Linked DNA regions of Homo sapiens: region 2 is linked to region 1. A link means that fine-mapping ties the variant in region 1 to the expression of a gene that starts in the linked region. Tissue or cell type: adrenal gland. Region 1 holds a variant in brackets; the other region holds the start of a gene. All regions are shown on one strand. Distances are from middle to middle.

Region 1 (6,016 bases):
TTGACGAAAGTTAAGTTTATCTTAGCTTAATATTGCCTTTTAGAAACTCTATATATTTTTCTGGGCATGGTAGTTCATGCCTGTACTTTGGGAGGCTGAGGCGGGAGGACTGCTTGAGGCCAGGAGTTTGAGACCAGTCTGGGGGCAACATAGCGAGACCCCATCTCTAAACAAACAGACAAACAAAAAAACTAAAAAAATTCATGCAAATATATATATATGTAGTGTTTCTTTCTTTTTGAGACAGGGTCTCGCTCTGTCACCGAGGCTGGAGTGCAGTGGCGTGATCTCGGCTCACTGCAGCCTCTGTCTCCTGGTGCCTTAGCCTCCTGAATAGCTGTGATTACAGGCATGTGCCACCAGGCCTGGCTAATTTTTTTTTTTTTTTTTTTTTTTTTTTTTTTTAGCAGAGATGGGGTTTTGCCATGTTTGCCAGGCTGGTCTCAAACTCCTGGCCTCAAGCGATCGGACCCCCTTGGCCTCGCAAAGTGCTGGGATTACAGGCATGAGCCACCGTATCCAGCCAACACTATACATTTTGTATGTAAATTAGACCTCAATAAAATCGATTTAAAAAGAAGAAAGCTGCTAACTTTAATGTCTTCTACATAACCAGTTTACCATGCTCCCTGACCTACTCCCATCTCTGTAAATTGTGCTATAAGAATGGATAAAATGATTACATCTAAATATGATTTATCTAGGCAGATAAACCCTAGCTCTTGTTAATTTACTTACTATAGCTTTATTTTTCCCATAAAAATCAGGTGTTTAAAAATTCTAAACATAATCCCTTTTCTCTTTATGATCTGGAAATTTTGAGAGTACTTTTCTTTTTCTTTTTTTGAGATAGAGTCACACTCAGTCATCCAGGCCAGAGTACAGTGGCGCAATCTTGGCTTACTGCAGCCTTGACCTCCGGGCTCAAGTGCTCCTCCCATCTCAGCCTCCTGAGTAGCTGGGACTACAGGCACAGGCCACCATACCCAGCTTATTTTTTATATTTTTATTTTTAGTAGAGATGAGGTCTTGCTATGTTGTCCAGGCTGCTCTCGAGTTCCTGGCCTCAAGCAGTCCTCCCACTTCGGCTTCCCAAAGTGCTGGTATTACAGGCATGAGCCACTGTGCCTGGCCAAGGATACTTCTCATTTGACTAAATACTCCCTTCCCTTCCACCGGAGGGTTTATACCATTTTCCTTATCTTTAGCAAAGTTGGTAAGACCAACGAGTATCATCATTTTGCAAATGAGTAAATGGACCTTAAAATACTAAAGGAACAAAAAGCAAAAAACACAATTCATTTAAAATAATAGAATAAGCCAGTGATAGAGGGGAAAAATCCAGTACAATAAGCAGATTAATTAAGTAAAAGATCTAGTATTTTCTCTTTCAATCTATTGTAATTAGTTTATTCTTGGCAGTATTGTGCAGTGATCTTTTAGCTGCCTCTGTATCTCCGTCTGGAATGAGGTTCGGGCCATGCTGCGCATGTTTATGTTCCAAGTTTATGTTTTATCTTTAAAACTCTGACTTTATTTGGCTACGTGCCTGTTACTGGGTATAGCCTATATTTTTAGTTTATTCCCAAATGCCCACAATATTAGAATTACCACTTCTTGTGTGTGCATCCACAGCATATCTTATCTGTTATTATGCTGAGAGTGGGGTAGATTAAAGCAAAGCAAAATTCTAGACTGAAAACAGTGTCAATTGAGTGCTTGAGCCATGTTTTTTCGTTCTCTTATGGTAGAGAAGTTTAGGATGAGCATTATTTCTCAGAAGAGTTATTTCTTTATCTAGGAGAAGAAATACCACTTGCAGGAGAGGGTTGACAAAGTAAAGAAGAAAGTGAAAGATGTGGAGGAAAAGTCAAAAGAATTTGTTCAGAAGGTGGAGGAAAAAAGCATTGACCTCATTCAGAAGTGGGAGGAGAAGTCCCGAGAATTCATTGGAAGTTTTCTGGAAATGTTTGGTCCGGAAGGAGCACTGGTATGTTCTTTCCCACTGGACAATGTAGGGAGTTCCATGTTGTGGAAAGAATGACAGAATCATTGAGCAGGAAGGGGCATCGACACTGAGAAGTTATCTAGTCTATCCCCTTATCTGGGCAGAACTATCTTTCAACTGTCCCCAGCAAGGTTTTTGAAA[C/T]CTTTACAGAAAGACGTTACACATTCTCCTAGATAATTTTGCCAGCTCTCTCTCAACCTTAAAGTCTGGTGACAAGATAAGCAAGTCGCCTTGCCCAGCTTTTATCTGTGGTATGATTTTAGATAGAAGGAAAGGAAAGAATAAAGAACAATAAAAAGAAAGCAGCCTCCACTACAAGTAGCTGCAGCAGGAACCCCAGGTAAGGTGGGAATTCTGTCTTTGAGGAGTAGCAGTCTTTTCAACCAAATAAAAGATTGAGCAAGTGAGTCCTAGGTTAGATATCAGGAAGGATCTGTCTGTGAAGGTGTTTGGATAAATTAGAATAATCCTAGACTAGATTATTGAGGAAGAATGGGGAATTTCCCGGGTGATGACAGCAGGGGAGAACCCTTAAATAAATAGTACAGCATAGACTATCCCAGTCCTAGATGCTTCAGTGATGATTAAGTAGGATCCACGGTGTTTTTCTGACTCTTCCTTTCGGTTTCTGCAGAAACATATGCTGAAAGAGGGGAAGGGCCGGATGCTGCAGGCCATCAGCCCGAAGCAGAGCCCCAGCAGCAGCCCTACTCGCGAGCGCTCCCCCTCCCCCTCTTTCCGATGGCCCTTCTCCGGCAAGACTTCCCCACCTTGCTCCCCAGCAAATCTCTCCAGGCACAAGGCTGCAGCCTATGATATCAGTGAGGATGAAGAAGACTAATGTTTCCTCCCTCCTTTCCTGTCCTCCCTTTCTGTCCCATTACCTTCAGAAGCTCTCTGTTGAATTCCAAATTGTGACCCCAACACTAAACCTAAGGACAGCTACAAAGGAAAGACAACTGGGGAAAGAAGACCTAGGACTGGGGGAACCCAAACAGCCTGTCCTGCAAGTGACATCACTCACCCACACGAAGGAGGGGGACTGCACCTTAGAAGCCTGCTCTGCATCCATTTACCCCCCCCCAAGGGCTTTGTTTCACTGTTTATGTTCACGTGATCTCAACAGGGAAATTGTCATTTTCATTAATTTTTTAAAAAATTCGTCTTTCAAATGTAGAACTAATTTTTTGCCCCTGAGGAGTGGGCAGAAGAAGGAGGTAGTGTAATACGCAGAGGCCTTTTCTTCCCGGTATACTATAGCATTTGCCTTCCGTTCTGAAGCTATGTGGCTTGCCAAGTCCTTCACGAAATGAGCCACGCTGATGGGTAATTTGTGGAGAAATATCTTAATTTTGATTTCCTTAAGGAAAAGCGAAAAGCAGAGTTACAGTCACAAATCCCCTGAACGTACTGCTGTCACCAGTGTCATTGTGGCTGCGGGAAGGAGATCTGAACCTAACTTTTCTTACTCCCTGAGGAGTTTCTTGTTGGACCCAATGGGGTCCATGAAGACACTGATGGGGATGGAAGCAGACCCATGGCATCAACTGCAGTGTTTCTGCTGTGTTCATCTTCTCAGAAAACTCTGTGACCCAGTTCTTTGGGAGCTTTTGTCAGTCTCTTTCGTGCCATCTACCTTCGAAGGAAGGAACACTTTTAGAGTTACAATGATGAGGAGAGGAGCGGGACAATACTCAATCCTATACCAAGTCGATTGAGATTAGTTTCCTACTGGGAGTAAGTGCCTGGCCCTGCTACTCCTATTTGAATGCTATTAATATTACCTAGCCTTTTACAAAGGATACTTTGTAAATGTCTGCTGTTGGAACTTGATGTTAATCCATTTTGGTCATAGCCATATTAGAGAGATTTGCACAGAATGTAAAGGCAAAAGCATAGGAAACACCTTCCTTTCTAAAGCAACAGCCTTATCACCTTGACCTCTGTCCCTCTTCAGAACATTCTTCCCTGGAACCAGTGCTCCACATCTTTCTTTTCCTCTGAGAGCTGCAGCTGGCAGGGACCTCCCTCTGCTGCTCCTCCAGCAAGCCACAGAGCATACCCTCACGTGACAAGAGTGTGGTAGGTTTTCTCCCCACTTTTCACACACGCCTGGTGGTTGTGGTTCCATCTGCCTTGTTGGCTTGCCCGGGGGGATTCAACACTTGACTTTCAAATCAAAGAATGCTAATGCTTAGCACTTGCTGTTGAGCATGCTCTAACTTTTAAAGCCCTGGCCTCCTGTCTCCTTAGCTGCTTAGCTACGCGGCCTAGCAGATCATCACCCATCAGTAATCCTGTGGCTAGATCCAGGGGAAAATTGCTTATGTCCAGGCCCCACCCCTGTCACTCATAAATACCCCTTGTGGGGGTGGAATTTTAGTGTTTTCAGCTAAGAAAACCACATTTTCTCTTTCCTTGCCTCTGCTAGGACTGTGAGCATCTCATAGTCCACTCCCTAAACACTTTCTGGTAACACCTAGTTTTCCGCCTGAGGGTCAGAGGCTAGAATCATTGCCTGCACAGCAGGACTACCTTGGTTCTTAAAACTTGGATCACCCAGGCAAGGCGTGGTGGCTCACGCCTGTCATCTCAGCACTTTGGGAGACTGAGGCTGGTGGATCACTTGAGGCCACGAGTTTGAGACCAGCCTGACCAACGTGGTGAAACCCCATCTCTACTAAAAATACAAAAATTAGCCAGGCGTGGTGGTGGGCACCTGTAATCCCAGCTACTTGGGAGGCTGAGGCAGGAGAATCCCTTGAACCCAGGAGGCGGAGGTTGCAGTGAGCAGAGATGGTGCCGCTGCAGTCCAGCCTGGGTGACAGAGCGAGACTCTGTCTCCAAAACAAAACAAAAACCACACACACATACAGAAATAAAGAGAAATAATCAACTAGAAAAAAAACAAAACTTGGATCACCCAGAAAGAGCGTCACAGAGGCGAGGGAGAATGAAGCCTCTTGTTATCCTGATCGCCTATGACAACGACATTTCTAACTCTTCTTTGAAGCGCAGTTCTTACTCTTAAATCTGGTCATACAAGCTTTGGCTTGGAATCCTGTCTGTCTTTGAAACAGCTGAAGTTAGTGTTTTCCTGTGTTACCCAGTGTTACATAGTCTCATCTTTGAACTTTTCTGCGTCAGCCTTCTCTCTTTGGGAATGCTGCCTGTTTCTGTCTAACTTATTCTCCCTGGTGTGGTGTGGCAGTGAAGTCTGTGCTGAAGCCCATCTGCTTGGTTCCTCCAAGTGCACATTATGCAAGTGTATTTGGATAGACAGGGAGATGCCCGGAACGTGGTTTTCCTCCTCCCTCCCTATTGGAGCCATACCTCCTAAATATATTGTCTGGGTCCCAAATGTTTGAGCCCTCTTCCTCTGCTCTCAGTGGGCTGCTCTTGGCATGCCCTGTGCTTGGAACGGGACCTGCAGGCTGACAGGCCTCTGAGACTGCTAGGGCCAGCAAACGTACATGTTATTGGGAAACTCCCTTTCCCCTTTTGGTGAGCTTCTACCACCTCAGTCTAATCGTTTTGACTGAAAGCTATTTGTCTGACTGAAAGCTAAAATCTTTTATAGTGTGGCCTGTTAGATACTTTGGGGTAAATGTGGTCTGAGGTGCTGGACTAGCACGGGTAGATGGAGAAAGCTGTTGGGAAGTTGCATAATGTGGTCATCTGTGCCTAATTAAATGAGGTTAGAGGTGTGCACACCACCACAATGCCTGGGATCTAAATCTTCAGATATTAACGTTTGAGGCTATGGAGCTGTTTCCCTGAATCACACACGAGAAAGCAGTCAACATGGGTGGGCCAAATGTGGCCAAGATGAGAGAGCCAGAAGTGTTGGCCTTAGAGCAGAGCCTCTGTGTGTGAGACATTAGAAGGCCAGAGCCGGGGAGGTGCCGGCGCAGCCACTGCCTTCCGGTGGGCCGGACGGAAAGCTTGGTCTTATGCTAGATTCAGAAGCACTGAAGAATGGAGGTTGACACTTTAGAGGACTAGGAA
Region 2 (5,510 bases), 27 kb after region 1:
AAGGTGAAACCCCGTCTCTACTAAAAATACAAAAATTAGCCAGGTGTGGTGGTGTAATCCCAGCTACTCGGGAGGCTGAGGCACGAGAATCGCTTGAACCTGGGAGGCGGAGGTTGCAGGGAGCCGAGATCTTGTCACTGCACTCCAGACTGGGTGACAGACAGAAACAAAACAAAAGCCTCTGCCAGGGAGAGGCTTTCTCGTCGTGTTCTGATCCTGCGATGTATGTGTTACCGCGATTCCTAACTATCCCTGTGCGTTCTGTCACTCCTGCAGGGACGCTCACCTACCTCATGAATTACGCGTGTCGCCCTCCTCGAGACGCCACAACGCAGTCCCCTGGGGAGCCAGCCGGAGACCTCTCCCTGCGGTGCTGTCTCCCCCGTGGTGGAACGGAAGCCCCTAATAAAGCCTTGTCTGGGAAATTTGCTTGGCCTCGTGTCAATTTTTATCGGAGCCTAAAGAACCTGTGGTCAGTAACACGATCATTTCAGTTATCACTTAAGTTTTGGCTTCCTTAATATGAGAGTCAGTTTTGAAAAATCAAAAAAGAGGCTGGGCGCCGTGGCTCACACCTGTAATCCCAGCACTTTGTGAGGCCGAGGCAGGTGGCTCACTTGAGGTCAGGAATTCGAGACCAGCCTGACCAACATGGTGAAACCCCATCTCTTAAAAATACAAAAATTAGGCCGAGTGCAGTGGCTCACTCCTGTAATGCCCGTACTTTGGGAGGCTGAGGTGGGTGGATCACCTGAGGTCAGGAGTTCGAGACCAGGCTGGCCAACATGGTGAAACTCCGTCTCTACTAAAACTACAAAAAAAAAATTAGCTGGGCATGGTGGCAGGTGCCTATAATCCTAGCTACTTGGGAGGCTGAGGCAAGAGAATTGCTTGAACCCGGGAGGCAGAGATTGCAGTGAGCTGAGATGGTGCCATTGCACTCCAGCCCGGGCGACAGAGTGAGACTCAGTCTCAAAACAACAACAACAAACCTCATCTCTTCCAGTCCCCCTCCTCCCACACCCTGGCAACTGTGAATCTGCTTTTGATCTCTATGGATTTGGCTACTCTGGATATTTCATGTAAGTGGAACCATACAATATGTGGCTTTTTGTGCCTAGTTTCTTCCATTTTGCATAATCTTTTCTTTTCTTTTATTCTGTGTTTTTGAGACATAGTTTCACTCTTGTTTCCCAGGCTGGAGTGCAATGGTGAGATCTCGGCTCACTGCAACCTCCGCCTCCCAGGTTCAAGCGATTCTCGTGCCTCAGGCTCCCGAGTAGCTGGGATTACAGGTGCGCACCACCACACCTGGCTAATTTTTGTATTTTTAGTAGAGATGTTGCAGGAAACTGAGGACTGGCAAGACTGAGACAGAGAACGAGAGGACTGTTTATTTCAGGTACGCACTGGCTTAGTGGACTGTCATCTAAAAAGCTGAGCATCGAACAAAGACAGAGCGGGGTTTTTATAAGCAGACTTCCAATAAATAAAAGTAGTTAATCATATGACAGGTCACATCATCTATAGCATAACTTGTGGCCTTGCATAGCTGGTGACTTTGTAGCTGCATTGAAAGAAAAACAAGAACTGGCTAAATACAGACATTTGTAAAACATAATCATGCTTAAGAAACCTGGGAAAGGAGTAACAGTCAAAGAATTTGTCTTTCTTTTTTTTCTTCAACTTTGCTCTGGAGGCGAGGGGTGTCTGGAGCTTATTCTTTTGGCCTTGGCCTCTTAAACAGCGTTATCTTATAACTGTCCTTGAAGTGAGCTTGCTGGGCAGAGGAAAACTTGTTCTTTTCTTTTTAACTTTTGCCTTGCTTGTTACTTGTCTTGGAGTGAATGAATGCATATTTATTTTTAAATTTCTGCCTCAGTTTCTTCTTTTTGAGGCCTTTTATAAAGGAAGTTTAATATGGCTCATGCTTGTAATCCCAGCACTTTAGGAGGCTGAGGTGGGTGGATCACCTGTGGTCAGGAGTTCGAGACCAGCCTGGCCAACATGACTAAACCCCGTCTCTACTACAAAATACAAAATGAGCCGGGCATGGTGATGCATGCCTGTAATCCCAGCTACTTGGGAGGCTGAGGCAGGAGAACCGCTTGAACCCAGGAGGCAGAGGTTGCAGTGAGCCGAGATTGCGCCATTACACTCCAGCCTGGGCAACAAGAGCGAAACTATCTCAAAAACAAACAAACAAACAAAACAAACCAACAAAAAAACCCAGCAACTTTCTTTCTTTTTTTTTTTTTTTTTTTGAGATGGAGTTTACTCTGCCACCCAGGTTGGAGTGCAATGGCGCGATCTTGGCTCGCTGCAACGTCCACCTTCCAGGTTCAAGTGATTCTCCTGCCTCAGCCTTCTGAGTAGCTGGGACTACAGGCGTGCACCACCACTCCTGGCTAGTTTTGTATGTTTAGTGGAGATGGGGTTTCACCATGTTGGCCAGGCTGGTCTCGAACTCCTGACCTCGAGTGATCTGCCTGCCTCGGTCTCCCACAGTGCTGGGATTACAGGGATTACAGCGCCGGCTGAAAATTACCAACTTTCTTCCCATGTGTTTCTCCAGGTCATATTTTCTCCAACAACATCAGCCTCTCAGGGGCAGGAACTCCCGGTTCCCCAGCACATGTCGGGGTGGGGGTGGGGTTTGCTGTTGGAAGTGCCTGTCACCGGAGGCAGCTAGAGCAGGGCTGCAGACAGTTCTGCTGAGGTCCCCCAGCCTCTGTGATGTCACACTGGGCCTTCTTTCCTTTCACCCTGGGCTGCGGCTCTGAGGCTGCCGTGGCCATGGAGCTCTGGAAGCTGGGCTGGGGGAGGAAGCCTGGTGGCTCTGACCTCCCCTGGAGGCGAAGGAGGCCCAGCCATGACACTCTTAACGGATGCCACGCCGCTGGTGAAGGAGCCCCATCCCCTGCCTCTGGTCCCACGTCCCTGGTTCCTCCCTAGCCTCTTTGCTGCCTTCAATGTGGTGCTGCTGGTCTTTTTCAGTGGCCTCTTCTTCGCATTCCCGTGAGTTTTCCAGGCAAGCCGTTAGGTTTCCCACAAAGAGACAGCCAGGGAAACAGAAGATGATAGGATGGAGGCAGGGGAGTGCAGAAGACCGGGGGAGAGGTCAGGGAAAAGGGGATATTCTGTTCGAGGGAACCGACGTGCAAAGGTGCAGAGGTCAAGGGTGCGGGCAGGGAAAAGGGGATATTCTGTTCCAGGAACCGACGTGCAAAGGCGCAGAGGTCAAGGGTGCCTGTGCATTTTGGGAGCTTTGGGTGGCTGGTCATGCTGGTGACATTTGGTGGAGCCATTATGAGTCTGCCTGGGTATTTGGAGCCTGGATTTTTAGATCTGGCTTGAAGGTCTGTGGGTCCTGACCTGAGCAAGCCACAGGCCTTGGGCCGGGGGCTTTGGGCTGCCCCTGCTCAGGACCGAGCCTGCCTCTGGTCTCAGTTGCAGGTGGCTGGCTCAGAACGGGGAGTGGGCCTTTCCTGTTATCACAGGCTCCCTCTTTGTCCTTACCTTCTTCAGTCTTGTTTCACTCAACTTCTCAGACCCTGGCATCTTACATCAAGGTGAGGCATCAGCCCCCTGGGAAAAGGAGGTGTCACTCAAGGGCTGGGAACCTGCAGGGGGGATTCCTAAAGTGCTCTTCCTACTGACCCTCCTCCAGCCTCTGGACCCCTTCACCCCACGTCTTCATTGCTCTGGCCCTCGCTCACTCTTTCTTCTCTTCTCTTTTCTTTCTTTCTTTCTCTTTCTTTCTTTCCTTCCTTCCTCTCTCTCTCCCTCTTTCTTTCCTTCCTTCCTCTCTCTTTCCTTCCTTCCTTCTTTCTTTCTTTCTCTTTTCTTTCTTTCTTTCTTTCCTTCTTTCCTTTCTTCCTCTCTCTTTCCTTCCTTCCTTCTTTCTTTCTTTCTTTCTCTTTTCTTTCTTTCTTTTTCTTTCTTTCTTTCCTTCTTTCCTTTCTTCTTTCTTTCTCTCTTTCCTTTTCTTTTTGTTGAGACAGAGTCTCGCTTTGCTGCCCAGGCGGGAGTGCAGTGGCGCAATCTCCGCTCACTGCAAGCTCCACCTCCCAGGTTCAAGCGATTCGTCTGCCTCAGCCTCCCAAGTAGCTGGGGCTACAGGAGCATGCTACCACGCCCAGCTAATTTTTTGTATTTTTAGTAGAGATGGGGTTTCACCATATTGGCCAGGCTGGTCTCGAACTCCTGACCTCATGATCAGCCCACCTCGGCCTCCCAAAGTGCTGGGATTACAGGCGTGAGCCCCCGCGCCCGGCCCTACCCCGTTTCTTAAGCCACCAAGGTGTGGAAAAACAGAATTGTTGAGGTTTCCCAGTTGCCTTAGATGGGAGGACCGGGCAGGCCAGGGCCAGAAGCCAGTGGGCTCTTCCAAACCACTGTATGCACTTCCTCCCTTCACTACACAATGACACTCAAAGCAGCACTCACTGTTCCAAACGCCTGAGTTTCATACAAAACTCTCCTGGCTGGAAACCCGTCTTCCCTTTGACTGCCATCCTCTCTGAGCTTGGACAGCTTGCTCAGTGGGGACAGGGGTTCCCCTGCCCACCTTGTCCCCACCCTTCCTTGTGCCCTGTGATGCCGTGGAGCTGCCCCCGCCGCGGGGTGACCGCAGGGCCTTCTGCTGTGCCCAATCCTCTTCCCACGCCAGGCTCCGCTGAGCAGGGCCCCTTGACGGTGCACGTGGTGTGGGTGAACCACGGGGCCTTCCGCCTGCAATGGTGTCCAAAGTGCTGCTTCCACCGCCCGCCCCGGACTTACCACTGCCCCTGGTGCAACATCTGTGTGGAGGTGAGTGCCCCTCTACCTGTCCACCAGCCATCGCCCCACATCTGGCTGGGACCAGGAGCCTCCCTCATACAGGGGCCAGGGCTGGGTGTGAAGCTGTTTTCAGGACTGCTAAAGGCCAAGGGTGGCAGTAACTCCCAGCCACCCTTGGTCACTCATGTGTTCTCCACCTGCACCTGTCCTGGGAGGCTGGCCGTTGCCTGCAGAGGTGCTGACATGCACAGGGCATCCGCATCTGTCCTGGGCTGGGTCAGGCCAGGGGAGGAGAGGCAGCCCTCTGTCCCACCCCTGGGCTCGCTAACACGAGATACCCAAGCCCCTCAGGCTGGCTGCCCGCCTGGTCTGGGAGGCCTTGCCTGTCCTCGCCTGGGTGTCCAAGTTGGAGGGTCTCCTGGCTCTGAGTGACCATCTCTCTCGAGAGCACGGCTTGCATAGGTTTACAAGTGCAGGAGGCTGGCTGGGCAAGGGTGTTACTGTTACTGTCATCTTCATCGAATGGATGAGAAAGTGGAGGTCCAGAGATGGTTTACGTTCTGCCCAGAGTTACAGTAGGATGTGTCTCACAGAAGGCCAGGCCAGTCTTCTCTCTAAAGGTCTTCTGACAGGTGACCGTATATACCAGAGTCCTAACTGTGCTCTAACAAGGGAAATGCCAGCATGAGGCATTCTGTGGCTCAGTTTCTCCCTGGGGGTGGAAGCCA

Evidence for each region. PIP is the estimated chance that this variant, and not a neighbour inherited with it, causes the effect.
Region 2: ZDHHC19 starts here. The variant in region 1 is fine-mapped to the expression of ZDHHC19 in adrenal gland (GTEx, PIP above 0.99).

What each region holds. Positions count from the first base shown.
Region 1 is chr3:196,235,521-196,241,536 of GRCh38, reverse strand. It overlaps PCYT1A (phosphate cytidylyltransferase 1A, choline), which reads left to right. Exons shown (of 9, transcript NM_001312673.2): 8 at 1,802-1,990; 9 at 2,643-6,016. The coding sequence ends at 2,849. Among named protein-coding and RNA genes, the nearest start is that of SLC51A, 22 kb to the right of the region's middle. The variant C/T (reference allele first, on the strand shown) is at 2,150.
Region 2 is chr3:196,208,678-196,214,187 of GRCh38, reverse strand. ZDHHC19 (zDHHC palmitoyltransferase 19) reads left to right here and starts at 2,788. Exons shown (of 8, transcript NM_001039617.2): 1 at 2,788-3,018; 2 at 3,451-3,572; 3 at 4,673-4,812. The coding sequence starts at 2,873. LOC124909479 (a long non-coding RNA gene) reads right to left here and starts at 2,773. Exons shown (of 4, transcript XR_007096240.1): 1 at 2,549-2,773; 2 at 1,411-1,567; 3 at 291-467. LOC105374304 (a long non-coding RNA gene) reads left to right here. Exons shown (of 4, transcript XR_001740544.2): 3 at 1-3; 4 at 277-425.